Homo sapiens: one gene and its partner. The main gene of each other region encodes a partner of the protein of the gene in region 2 in a complex. Each region holds a gene or a part of one and is shown on either strand. Other genes may lie near its edges.

Region 1 (7,027 bases), on a different chromosome or scaffold from region 2:
ATGTACAAATATTAAATACCATGGCCTTACCCCTGCGCCCAGGGTACACGTGCGGGTAGTACTCGTAATAAAGATCTGGCTGATCAAGATTTCCGAAGGGTTCAAATTCCATCTCAGCATTCTGGAAAAGGCCCAACTTCACTAGTAGTGCCAGCCTGACAAACCAGAGCTAAAAACAAAATACAATGGAAACAATAGGTTATCTACATATATCCAGTTCAGAATTTGCTATTCCTTATGAGTTGGTGTTAGAGGTTAATTTCTCATATATTAAAATAAGGGCTAACCTAACTTTCTATCTTTGCATATTTACACAATCGTATTTAAAAAATTACTCTTGAAGCTGGGCATGATGCCTCATGCCTGCAGTTCCAGCTACTCAGGAGGCTGAGGTGGGAAGATTGCTTGAGCCCAGGAGTCTGAGTCCAGCCTGGGCAACATAGCGAGACCCTGTCTCTAAGAAGAAATTACTATTGAGCTTAATAACAATGTGAATGATTTTACATAATTGTTTACTCAATAAGTAAACAGTGCTTACTGAGCAGGTCTGTGTGCAAAGCACTGTGCTAGGTGTCATGAAAATGAAAAGGCACCAAAGGAATGCGCCACCTAGTGGAGGGCGGGGGAATGACGGCGGGAACGGGAGCAGGAAGGAGAGGAAGCGCAGGGATGGGTTGTGTTTGAGGGCAGCTCTCAGGGCTGCAGAATTTCAAGGGGCCACAGGCTAAGGAAGGGTCTGCTGGTTCAGGGAACGTAAGGACAAAGGTACAGAGTGGACAAAACACAACATACGAGAGAGCACAGTGTGCTCTCAGGGGTACATTCAGGAAAATGGTGGGAATTTGCATTAGACAGCTGCAGAGCCAGAGACTTAGGATTAAAAGGGTACCTTAGAAATGACCTAATTGGATCTGACTTTACTGATGAGAAGAATGAATTTCACTAAGTGTCCGCTGAAGGATGAACGGATAAAGGAACGTGGCATGACGCACAGTGGAATACCACTCAGCTTTCATGGAGGAAATCCCGTCGTTTGTGCTGTGGATGAGCCTAGGGGACATGACGTTAGACAAACAAGCCAGGCACAGAAAGACAAACACCGTGTGACCTCACTTACACATGGAATCTGAAAACACTGAACTCACAGAAGCAGAGTAGATGGCGGGTGCCGGGGCTGGGGGTGGGGAGGAGGGCCGGGCAGGGGAGGTTTGAGAGATGTTAGTCAAAGGAAACAAAATCCAGTGACGCAAGGAATAAGCTCAAGAGATCTATTGTAGACGTGGTGACACAGTTACAATGTATACTAAAAATTGCTAAGACAGATTTTCAGTGTTCTCATTACACACACACACACACACACACACACACACAAAGGCATGCGAGGCAATGCATGCGATTTAGCTTGATTTAACCATTCCATAGTGTACACATAGCCTGTCATGGTCTGAGGGTTTGCATACAACACGAGAAGATGAAATTTCACATGGTAGCCAATGGGAAACTATCCAGCTCTTGACTAGCTCCGTTTCAGACCTAGTTGGAAAGGAGGGTGGTTCACCCTCTTTAGGCAGCCTGGTGGTTCCTGGCTCTAGGGAGGTCACCATATTGGTGTTGAGCTAGTGCCAACACCTGATCAACAAAGTGCACTACGGCCCAGAAGCCCCAGGCCCAAGTGATCTTCCTGCCTCAGTCTCCCCAGTAGCTGGGACTACAGTCAATGCGCCACTGCGCCGGGCACAGTTTTCCAGCAGGAAAGTGAGATGATCAAAAGTGTGCTTTTTTGGAGGTAGTTTATGGAATGAATGTGAATAAAGAAACTTGAACTAAGTTCATAAAAGAGGCCAAAGCAACACTGCAATGAGAGCTCGAACTGTGGGTGGTGGTGGGTTGGAGAGAAATGATAGGAAAACAGCCTAAGATTTGGCAAACCAATGGATGGAGAGGTGATGGGGGAAAGTACATTTAAAGCTAGAGCGGCTCTTCTTGTCGGCTCTTGGGGGAAGAGAAAGAAGGAGAAGGAGCCTGCTGGAAATAGCTAAGCTGTCAGGGCTCCCCAGAGCTGCTCCTTTCAAAAGCTCATCACAGTTCTGAAGGATCTGGTGATCTGTTTAGTCCCGGGGGATTCCCATGTAAGCTAGAAGAACAGTTAAAAAACTCCCCAGGGAAAGGTAAGAATGTATCAACGTTTGCAGCTGTTCCTTCTTCTCAGATGAGTTTCCTTTTGTTCACAAGTCTATTTTGTGCATTCCCTTTTCTTTTTTCTTTTTTTTTAAATTTCAGAGCAAGTGATATACCACGAGGAGCAAATGGCACATGGACCCTCCGTCCTTGGGGTGGACAGAACCAACTGCTCCTGTCACTGTTTCCTACCGGGCCCAGACACGCCCCAGAGCCCCGCACAGGCCAGTTGCTACTGCCAGTCGTGAGGCGAACCCACCTGCTGACCCAAAGCCATGCCGGTTCCACCATGAGACTGAGTGTGGGCACTTGTGAGCGTGCTTCTGGGGCGCACAGGCATCCTGACGGGCCGAAGTGAGAATTCCAGTGCCCCAGTATAGTATATACAATATAATTAGGAGAGAAAGAAGCAGGATATGAAAACATACTTTTTGTTATTGGCATGAAAGGCCATGGTCCTGTCCATGTCCCCAGACTGTGATAAGCCAGGTTAAACTCCAGCACCTGAAAGGTGTTCTCACCTGCAGTGAATCTGTCGTGTGGCTGGTGAGCAGCCCGCTCTTGCCGTAGCCCTGGCCGTGGGCTGTGAGGAGACGTCCGCACAGGTCCACTGCTGCCCTCCAGTTTCTGCAGCTCTGCAAGACACGGCAGAACATGTGACCAAACACACATGCAAGGCATGGTGGAATCCATGACCCAAACGCATAGCCACTGGCCACAGCTGCTCACCTTGCTGGAAGCAGCGCCAGCCAGCCGTTAGTAATGGTGACAACGTCAGTGTGCTGACGGCACGGAGGGGCATGCCATTTGTCAACGCTGCACGTGTAATTAGGCAATAAGAGAGCCAAGCGTGAGGTACAGTTCAAGCCGATCAAATCATAAAAACATTACAATTCAACAACCGATAGAACATCGGGAAGAGGCTTTTTATTGGAAAGCTCCGCACATCTCTCAATCTATATGACTGGTTTCCTTTTTAGCAAGATTATCTTAAGATTTCTGTCAATTTAAAATCAATAAGGAAATTTTATGCTATGTGTTGGACATATTTATTTGTATCTGTAAGATTTGCATATGACTCTAAAATAACTGGCTTTATATGTTCATAATTTTAATTTATCAATATGAAAAAATCAATGAACTGGGTGAACACAACATGTTCCAGGCCCGTGTGGCAATGCACAGTATACTTTCACATCACTTAACGTTACGGCTTCAACATGGAAAGGCTGGCTGGTACTGACACACTGGCTGATTCGTACAGACTCTTGTGTTTATCTTTGCCCTTGTGCAATACAGAAAGGACAGCCATTAGGCAAATGAATGGGAAAATAAGATCAGAATGTTTAAACCTTTTAAGAAGCTAAAAGTGGATGCTCACTCTGTCTTTTCTCAATGTAACGGGCACTATCTTTGAATACGGTAGATGTCCTCATTTCTGCAGCCAGTCAATAAACATGCTTTAAGTACCTCCTGCCTGACAGAGACTGCAAGGCTGGCGGGGAGGTTAGTGAACGAGCACTCATTAGTGGTATGATCTAGCAAGGGAGACAGACAATTAAACAATATGTTTCTCAAGAATTAGCTAAATGATTTTGTGTGCATGCCAAGCGCTTCTCTGACAAGAAGTTTAGGAGTTTACATATTTTAAAAACGTGTGGTAGAGCCTGCCACACACTTCTTCTGTATACTAACTCACACACGCACTACTCCCTTTCCACGCCTCCTGCACTCCACGCCGGGACACAGAGAACTCAGGACCTGCTCATGAAACGCCTAGGAGGGCAATGAGTCTCAGCTTTGCACTACAGTTGTTCTGCAGTCCTTTATTTGGGCTTCCTCAGGCAGGAGCTAACGACCTGCTCCAATTCCAGCCACAGCGGCGGTGTGGGGGGCTGTGTTGAAGGCAGGAGAGTGGGGCTTGTGTCTTCCGGGGTTCTGACATGTGGCCTCACACTCACACTGCAGGCTCAGCAATGGCTGAGTTTACAGAGCTGAGGTCATCTGTCCCACCTCACAGATGTGACAATTAAAGAAGATACATGAAAGTGCTGAGCACAGTGCCAGGCAGGAGGCAGGCATTAAAAATGTGAACGATGCTGTTAAAAATTCCCAAACTGTTTCTTCATCAATCCAGAGTCAGCGTGTGCGTGCCTAGTGAAACTCTATGTGTAAGGAAAGGAACGGGTGCTGGGCCTTGAGCTTCAGACAGGCCAGGCTCTACGCCTGAGTAGCCGTGTGACCTGCTGCAAGCCACCAGCCGTCCCTGGGCTGCAGGCATCTCAGTTTCCTCCAGGTCTTCTGAGGGGTTGATAGTTGTTTTTTTTTTAAATGCTGAACATCCTACTGTCCACATTACCAGTGTGTTTACCCACTGACCTATCGAAGGACCCCTTGGTTGCCTCTAGTTTTTGGCAACTATGGATAAAGCTGGTATCAACATCTTTGGGCAGATTCTTGTGTGGATATAAGCATTCGGCATAACTGGGTGAAATATCCAGGAGCGTAATGCAGTAACTGGATTGCTGGGTTGTACCTAAGAGTATGTTTAGTGTTGTAGGAGGCCGCCAAGCTGTCTTCCTAAGTGGCCGTGCCATCTTGCCTTCCCTAGCAGTGAGGGGTCCCACGGCTGCACGTCCCGTGGCACTTGGTGTTGTCCATGCTATTTTTCAGCCACTCTAACTGGCATGCGTTTCACTCTCAGGTGAACTTTCCACCGTTCTCTCATGGAGTTTTTCCTTTCACTGTACCTGCCACAGCCTGACGGTGAGTACTGGCCTCCACGGCACCCACCAGCGAGCTGCAAATATTAGCAGGGCAACTCAAATGAGATTTCTTAAACTCTATCTTGTAGATTTTTTTTTTTTTTTTTTGGAAATGAGGACACCAGAGCGTACACAGTGCAGTTGGAGTCTGTGGTTTTCTTCACTAGCTGGTGTGCGGCCACTGGACCAAGTCAGAGAACCACTGATCGACGGTGAAGATGAGATCGGTGCCACGTTCCCCTAAACTGTCCAGACTACAGCAAGTAATACAGGATTTCTGTGTTCTGGTTGACAGTTCAGAAGTATTTTTAGATTGGTTACGATAATTTACTAAAACGATCTCCAAATGCCTTCTCTAGTCTAAATTCAATGCAATAATCACTTTATATAATACAAATGGCTCTGTATATTCTCTTTGAATTGCAAATGTGAAAGAGTGAGAGGGAAAGAGATTGTGCCAAGTCTGAACCAGTTCTATATATGCATCTAGGCAGATTCTGTATCCAGGGGCAACTAATAACTGCTCCCTTCCTGGTTCCCTAGGCCTAAGGCTCTGGCCTTTCCTGCTAGAAAGGCTGGGGCCCTCTTCCCTCAGGACATGACCTACAGTGAGGACAGGCAGGAGTTAATCAGGGAAGGGGAGGGGGCGGAGACCCTAGAAGAGGACAGAATGTGTGCAAAACAAGGCGAGAGCAGGCATGGGGGGCACAGGGAGCAGAGGGCAGGGTGCAGGGCCCGAGGGGATGCAGTAAGGACCAGCGGGCCGGAGGGAGGCGGTGGAGGAGGGGCCGAGCAGGTGTGGATGAGGAGAGGCTGGGGAAGCAGGTGAGGATGGGGTGGCACAGGAGGTGAGGCAGAGGAGGGTCGGGTGTGCTGGCCTTTGCAGGCTTCCAAGAGCACAGGCCACAGCAGTGTCGTGTCATCACATTTGAAGGCCCCTGTCTCCCTGCACTGATGGGGTGAACTTAAGGCGTCCGTGTAGATGTGAGTAAAGCTATGAGGATGTTCCAGCAGCTGGGCCTGGTGCTGGCAATCTGTGCACATCCTTTGGACGCCCCCCACCCCCTACTGCCTGAGTTGGTAGGCAGAGCTCACAGGAACCCAGAGCCCAGCCTCGTGTGCACCTGCACGGTGATAAGGTTCTGTGCTACCATGGAAGAGCTGGGCATTCACAGCAGAGCTGAGGAGCTGGACAGATACTGTATGGCCAGGAAGTCTACAATGTTTATTCTATGGTCTTTTACAGAAAACGCTGGCGGATCCCAGGTCTAGGCCCCTCGTGGCTCAGTAGTTCATTTCTGTTGACTTCAAGGAGGACTGTGGGCTGACTTCAGCCCGCGAGTGGCTTGCGTCTGATACCTGAGGACGAGGCACAGGAATGGAGATGCTCCTGTAGTCACGTGACAGAGAACTTTATGTGTATGGCATGCAGTGATAACAAAGCAGGGGCCTGCATTTGGCATGTTTTCCATTTTATTCTTTCATGACTGATTATTGTGAATTAGTTATTATTTATATTGATGGTGCAGAGTGGCAGAAGCAGGCGAGTATTTGTAGAGATATGGTTTTCCCATGTTGCCCAGGCTTGTCTTGAACTTCTGGGCTGAAGTGATCTACTCACCTCAGCCTCCCAGAGTGCTGGGATTATGGGATTACAGGCATTAGCCACTGTGCCTGCCACTATGACAATGTTTTTTTTTTTTTTTTTTTTTGAGACAGAGTCTCTATTGCCCAGGCTGGAGTGCGGTGGCACGATCTCGACTCGCTGCAATCTCCGCCTCCTGGGTTCAAGTGATTCTCTTGCCTCAACCTCCTGAGTAGCTGGGACTACAGGCGCCCGCCACCACGCCCGGCTAAAGTTTGTATTTTTAGTAGAGATGGGGTTTCGCCATGTTGGCCAGGCTGGTCTCGAGCTCCTGACCTCCGGTGATCTGCCTGCCTCGGCCTCCCAAAGTGCTGAGATTACAGGCGTGAGCCATCACGCCCGGCCAATGACCATTTTTAAAAATGAGAAACTTAAGGTTTTAATTCTCGTGGAAAGAAGAACAAAGAAGTTCGATGAGTAAATGTTGGCGGAATCTGCA
Region 2 (7,027 bases):
TCTCAATCACAAAAAAGATAAGCCTGAGGCAGAAGAATAGGATCTAGAGGCAAAGAACTTAAGGTTGTTTCACACAGACTTCCTACAACTACATTGAAAGGAAAACCCTAACTTTCCATGACTAAGTAACAAAAGGACCAGAGGCTGCTCCCTTTGACCTTTTCTGCATGGCAGGTGGGAAACTGGCTGTCCGGAACCACTCAGACTGATTGCTGGTGGAGTCTTAGTTTGCAGAGAAGTATAACTTTGTCTACTTTTCATTTGCATAGAAGCATAACTTTGTAACTTCACCTTAGCCTCTGAGTGGCTGCTTTCCGCAACCAATCAGACTAACTGCAGGCTACCACTTCATTTACAAGAGGTGAGCATGAAGTGGCCAATGGGAAACTTCTAGTGGGTATTTAGACCCAAGAAGATTCTGTATCCGTGCCCTTGAGCCCGCTGCTCGGCCCACTCCCACACTGTGGAGTGTACTTTCGTTTTCAATAAATCCCTGCTTTCATTATTTTGTTGCTTCCTTCTTTGTGACCTATGCAACATGATGACTAAATCCTGAGCCATTAAAGGCAGGTTCATTCATCAAGGACCAAAACGTTCATGTTCATTCAGCATTCGTGGGTCTGCTCTACCCAAGAAGTTTTCTCACTCTTCATTGGTTCTACCAAGCATAAGCAAATCAAACAACTCATTGAGAGAATGTCATCAGCCAATAAAATAAGAAACTGCTCCCAGGCCCTGAATCAGCTTATTAAAATTGACCTCTGGGACTAGCTTCTCCTAATACATAAAATTATAAAAAAGACTTAGACACAGAACCTCAAGTCTGTTCTACCAGGAAATTTTACACAAGTATTCCAGAAATCAACCAATCATTCTAACCCATTAGTGGTATTCAGTAAGATTGAAAGTATTCAATAAAATCAGAACAAAATGTCTCATACAAGATTTCTGGGCAGGGCATGGTGGCTCACGCCTGTAATCCCAGCACTTTGGGAGGCCGAGGCGGGTGGATCACGAGGTCAAGCATTCGAGACCAGCCTGGCCAACATAGTGAAACCCCGCCTCTATTAAAAATACAAAAAATTAGCCATGTGTGGTGGCGGGCGCCTGTAATCCCAACTAGTCAGGAGGCTGAGGGAGGAGAATTGCTTGAACCTGGGAGGTGGAGGCTGTGGTGAGCCGAGATTGCGCCACTGCACTCCAGCCCGGGCAACAGTGCAAGACTCTGTCTCAAAAAAAAAAAAAAATTACTGACTCAACAGATTTTACAGTTTATTTAAATATTAGTCCTAACTCAAAGGAAAAAGTAACAAATGAGTCTGCTTTATTTAAAGACTGCAAGTGAGCAGAGGCCGGAAAAAGGGCAGAGCTCACCTGGCCGGTGTCTATTGGCTGCTTCAGCAGGAAGGGTGCTGCCCTGGAACCTCCGAGCTCCACTCTTCCCACCAGTTCCACCAGGATAGTGATAGATGACAGAAGCTGAACACAATCCTTCCAGGGCAGCTGGGCATTAAGAAAACAAAAAACAAAAACCAGAAAACAAAAAACAAAAACCAGCATCATTAGTCAAGTCAGTGACCCTTCATTAGCTCAAACTGCAGTAACTAACAATGATTTAAACAGGTGGATTATTTGGAAATGCCAATTTTTCTCCCAAAACAAAGATCAAACCTAAAGATCACTAGTTTTTTGCAAATGGGAACTTGCCACCTGTCTTTCCCATGCCCATGTCCAGGCAGGCAATGCAGAACACTCTCACCACACTCAAGGTTTCCCTGCAGGGCTGACTGCACACGTAAAACAGGCCAGCCTCTGCGTTCATCCATTCACGTGGCCGGCATTCCTGCACAAACTGTGTGGCAGACTGCGCCAGGTTCTGGAGCTACAGAGATGTATAACAGAAAGTGCCCTGGATTGAAAATATTTCACAGTAATAGCACCAAAGCAAGACCAGAATGCCTTTCCAGACCATGCACCCCATAGGCATCTGCTCCTTTTGAGGTTGTAGTCCTCCCTCTTCCTCAAAAACAGCCATATTAACTCGCTACACAGTCCGTTCTTCTCTCATGACGTAACAACCTAATAATCTCCAGCTATGCCACATGCCTTAGAAGGTGTGCCACAGTATTCATCTCTATCATCTTTATCCATTAACTCAGTGCTCCTTAAACTTTTGGTCTAAAAACTCCTTGATGCTCTTAAAAATGACTTAGGATCACAAAGAGCTTTTTTTGTGATGTGGGTTACACCTGTAGATATTTACCATATTGGAAAATAAAACTGAGAAAAGGATTTAAGTATTTATGTATTAATTCCTCTTAAAATAGGCCAGACGCAGTGGCTCATGCCAGTAATCCCAGCACTTTGGGAAGCCAAGGTGGGTGGATCACTTGAGGTCAGGAGTTCAAGACCAGCCTGGCCAACATGGTGAAACCCTGACTCTACTAAAAATACAAAAATTGGCCAGGCATGATAAAACACACCTGTAGCCCCAGCTACTCGGGAGGCTGAGGCAAGAGAATCGCTTGAACCTGGGAAATGGAAGTTTCAGTGAGCTGAAATCACGCCATTGCACTCCAGCCTGGGCGACAGAGTGAGACTGACTCAAAAAAATAAAAATAAAAAATAAAATAATAAGCTTGTCATGTGTTAACAGTTTTATGAAAAATAATTGTTTTCCAAAACAAAAATAAAGTACTGGAGGAATGGCATTATTTGACATGTTCACACATTTCTTTAATATCAGAGTTAATACAAGTCAGCTGGATCTTCTATCAGCTTCTACATTCAGTCTGCTGTGATGTCAGGCCTAAGTAGCTTGTGGACAACTCCACTGTCCACTTCTGAGAGGCTGAGCATGGAAGAGGCCCACGGCACACAGCACCGTCCTTCTCTGTGTGCCCTTTAGGAGCCCTCCTCATCCAGTCCAGCGCCGCATGGGGAAGGCATATGGGCAGTACCAGTCTTTCTGGAGAAGCACCTGCTGCACATGCCCTAGTCTCAGAGCCCACTGGGAGATGCACAGATTCTCTAATTGATACAATAAGGAGTACTTAGGGAGACAATGCTCTTTCAAGAAAACCAAGTAAAACTATGTCTTTCTCAGCCTGCATAATCCTTTATCTGATTCTCTTTTCTTTTCCATCCCTAATTCTTACTCCCTTTCTTTCCCCACTTCTATTTCCCTAGCCTCTTTAAAAAACTAAATTTAAGTCCATTTTAAGTTTTATTTTGGTTTTTTCTTAAGAGACAAAGTCTCACTCTTGCTCAGGATGGAGTGCAGTGGTGCGATCGTGGCTCACTGCAGCCTTGACCTCCTGAGCCCAAGCGATCCTCCTGCCTCACCCTCACAAGTAGCTGGGACTACAGGCACAGACCACCAAGCCCAGCTAATGTCTTTTTATTTTATTTTATTTTATTTTATTTTGGTAGAAGTGAGGTCTCCCTATGTTGCTCAGGCTGGTCTCCACCCAGTTAATGTTTTTTAATTTTGTTTTGTAGAAGTGAGGTGAAGTAAGATTTTTTTATTTTTTATTTTTTGTAGAAGTGTTGGGATTACAGGCATGAGCCACCATGCCTGGCCGTTTGAAGTATTTCTTATATTTGGCTGGGCACAGTGGCTTATGCCTGTAATCCCAGCACTCTGGGAGGCCAAGGCAGGCATATCAGCTGAGGTCGAGTTCAAGAGCAGCTCGGCCAACATCGCAAAACCCCGTCTCTACTAAAAATAGAAAATTTAGCCGGGTGTGGTAGTGCATGCCTGTAAGTCCCAGCTACTCGGAAGGCTGAGGCAGGAGAATCGCTTGAACCCAGGAGGCGGAGATTGCAGTGAGCCAAGATCATGCCACTGCACTCCAGCCTGGGCAACAGAGCGAGACTCCGTCCCCAAGAACGAAAGAATTTGTTATATTTAATATGTTCTACGGCACCTCGTTAAACTTCTGTTACAGAACTCACCTCATTACTTCATTCCGACTTGTATTATCATAAGTGGCTGACAGGTGTCCTTGCTAAACTGTCAACCTCAACGAAAGAACCCTGTTTTAGTCCTTACCCACACAATGGACTCAGCCAGTCCATCCTCCCAGGACCACCTCCAGGAGGCGCAGTCCCCAAAGGGAAGACCACACACAGACATCCGATTCCACCACGAAGTGTCAGCAACATCTCAGGCAGGGCACCCGCTCTGCCGACTGCTGCGGGGGATCAGAGATGGCTGTGCTTTGAAGTAGGATTTCTTCTTCCCTTTCTTTTAATTTTTAAGATTGACATAGAGTTCACATACCATATAATTCACCCACTTAAAGTGTGCAAGTCAGCAGTTTTTAGTATATTCACAACTGTGCAACCATCACCACTAACTGACTCTGGAACATTTTCATCACCCCAGAAAGAAACCTTATGCCCGTTAACTGTCACTTCCCATTCCCCCTCCTCCCAGCCCCTAGAACCAGTTGTCTACTTTCTGCTTCTATAGATTTGCCTATTCTAGCCACTTCATATATATAGAATCATACAATCTGCGGCCTTTTTCATGCCTGCCTTCTCTCACTTAGCACAAAGTTGTCAAGGTTCATCCGTGCTGCAGTGGTATCACAATTTCACTCCTTTTCATGGCTGAATAATATTCCGCTGTATGCCCATACCACATTTCGTTTATCCATTCATCATGTGACACATGGAGGAGGTTTTGAGGGAGGAGTCTAAGAGGTGAAGATCATGGGGAACGGCATCCAAAGCAGAGGGCAAGGTATACTAAGAACAGAGGAAAAGGGAAAGTGTGGGCAGGGCCTCCTTCAGAGGACGCATGGCAGGGTGGGAGGAGGGCAGCAGATACAGCAGGGAAGCATCCCAGGCCACTGCTCGTGGCAACCAGCACAGGCTGGCTGCTTTTCCTCCCTCATCCCTTCTTTTTGGGGAATTTCTTCTGCCGTTTCCTCTCATTTCTTTTTTTATTTTATTTTATTTTTTTTTGAGATGGAGTCTCGCTCTGTTGCCAGGCTGGAGTGCAGTTGTGCAACCTCTGCTCACTGCAACTTCTGCCTCCTGGTTCAAGAAATTCTGCTGCCTCCGCCTCCCGAGTAGCTGGGACTATAGGCGCGTGCCACCACGCCCAGCTAATTTTTGTATTTTTAGTAGAGACGTGGTTTCACCATGTTGGCCAGGATGGTCTCAATCTCTTGACCTCATATTTGGCCTGCCGTAGCCTCCCAAAGTGCTGGGATTACAGGCGTGAGCCACCGCACCCAGCCTCTCATTTTAATTAACAGTTGAAACAATTACATATCAGATCATCTTCATCAGCTCATCTTACCTCCAAGCCACAGAAAGTCATTCACAGAACGCAGCAGCTCCACCGACATGTGGTAATGCACCAGGGAGTCCTGCAGCATCCCTGCCTGCAGGCACAGGTCCCCCACGTGCTTCCGCATGCGGCCTTGGCACCGCTTCTTGTAATGTCTAGAAAATACATGAAAATGTATCTTTATTACTATACAACTCCCACCCAGAAAGCACTCTGACTAAGCACTATTCAATTCTCTCACTACTAAAAATGCTAAGAAGGCAACTGTAGGCTCTATAATTTTAAGTCAGCAATAATCATTGCCAGTTATGTGAGCTGGAGTGGTCTTAATTTCAAAAATGTACTGCCAAGCAATTTGTTTAAAGGTGATCGGTACGTAAGGACTTCTACCATGTCTTTCACGTAGGCAATGTTACAGTTGGATTTTTCTTTTTAGATTTTCCAGTTGTAACATTAGCATAAGGAAGTTTATGTTTCAGCTTTTTAAAAAAATCAATTATCTTCCACTTCTTAACATCAAACCTCTTATTATTTTATAAAGACAGCTATGCTGAGTCTTATTAGCCAACCATTTGGCTTTAGCAAACAAGACGTTCATCCTCGCTATTTCAGGGCAAGCTTTAGGAAAGCTTCCAGAGAGCAGGGCCTGGGGTGCTCACTAACAGCTCTTTAAATATTGGCAAGGATATACCACTAAATAATGCAAAGGCTTCTGAGTCCCTAATCAACTCAGAAACCAAAGAAACTGTACCAAAGTATTCCTTTTATCATTTTTAAATACATCTAACCTTTAAATGTTATATTTCTTAAGATAGATGATTTTTTTTTTAAAGAAAAACTGCAGCTGGATTAAACTTTCCCTCATCAAGAAAGCAAACTTATCAAGAATAAAACTCCTCTGGAAATCCAGAAGATGTGACGTTTCTAAGTAAATGAATGTTATTGACACATCTCAATACAATGTTAAATCCTATCATGTGTAACTCTAACGAGTTCAACAAACTCTTTGTTACTCTGGAATTTAGCATTTCCATTCTGAATAAGTTTTAAACAAAGATCACAACGTAAGGCAGACGCAGAAAGAAAAAGAAACGCCAGCCTTCGTTTGTCTCCTTCCTGGCCACAAGGCAGTGTCAGGATGGCCCCTGCTAACAGACCCTCCCCATAAGAAAATACAGCATCTAGCAGGGTGCAGTGGCTCACGCCTGTAATCCCAGCACTTTGGGAGACCGAGGCGGGCGGATCACAAGGTCAGGAGATCGAGACCATCCTGGCTAACACGGTGAAACCCCATCTCTACTAAAAATACAAAAAATTAGCCGGGCGTGGTGGCACGCGCCTGTAGTCCCAGCTACTCAGGAGGCTGAGGCAGGAGAATCACTTGAACCCGGGAGGCGGAGGTTGCAGTGAGCCGAGATCATGCCACTGCACTCCAGCCTGGGGGACAGGGTGAGACTCCCAAAAAAAAAAGAAAAGAAAAGAAAGGCATCTGAGCTGCTCTTCCCATCCCAACAGCAGTCACCTCAGCAGCCTCCGCCTAGTCTCTGACTCCTCACCCTGCACCCCCTTCCCCTTCATTGCTTCTATACACACACAGCCAGAGTGTCCTTCCCAAAGCACAAATCAGTCTGTGTCCCTCCCCCACTGCAAACCTTTCACAGGATGCTCAATTCAGTCGTAGGGAGAGGCATGCAGTCCATAGCTAGCCCCTCCCACGGCTCT

Evidence for each region.
Region 1: TRAPPC9 (region 2) and TRAPPC12 share a complex: the UniProt entries of both Homo sapiens proteins name them as parts of the multisubunit TRAPP (transport protein particle) complex.

Annotation. Positions count from the first base shown.
Region 1 is NC_000002.12:3,417,667-3,424,693, reverse strand, and holds part of TRAPPC12 (trafficking protein particle complex subunit 12), read right to left. Parts: intron 2,995-7,027; exon of another isoform or gene 2,908-2,994; intron 2,814-2,907; coding exon 2,700-2,813; intron 170-2,699; coding exon 31-169; intron 1-30. UniProt on the Homo sapiens protein: Component of the TRAPP complex, which is involved in endoplasmic reticulum to Golgi apparatus trafficking at a very early stage.
Region 2 is NC_000008.11:140,433,738-140,440,764, forward strand, and holds part of TRAPPC9 (trafficking protein particle complex subunit 9), read right to left. Parts: intron 5,461-7,027; coding exon 5,315-5,460; intron 1,504-5,314; coding exon 1,375-1,503; intron 1-1,374. UniProt on the Homo sapiens protein: Functions as an activator of NF-kappa-B through increased phosphorylation of the IKK complex. May function in neuronal cells differentiation. May play a role in vesicular transport from endoplasmic reticulum to Golgi.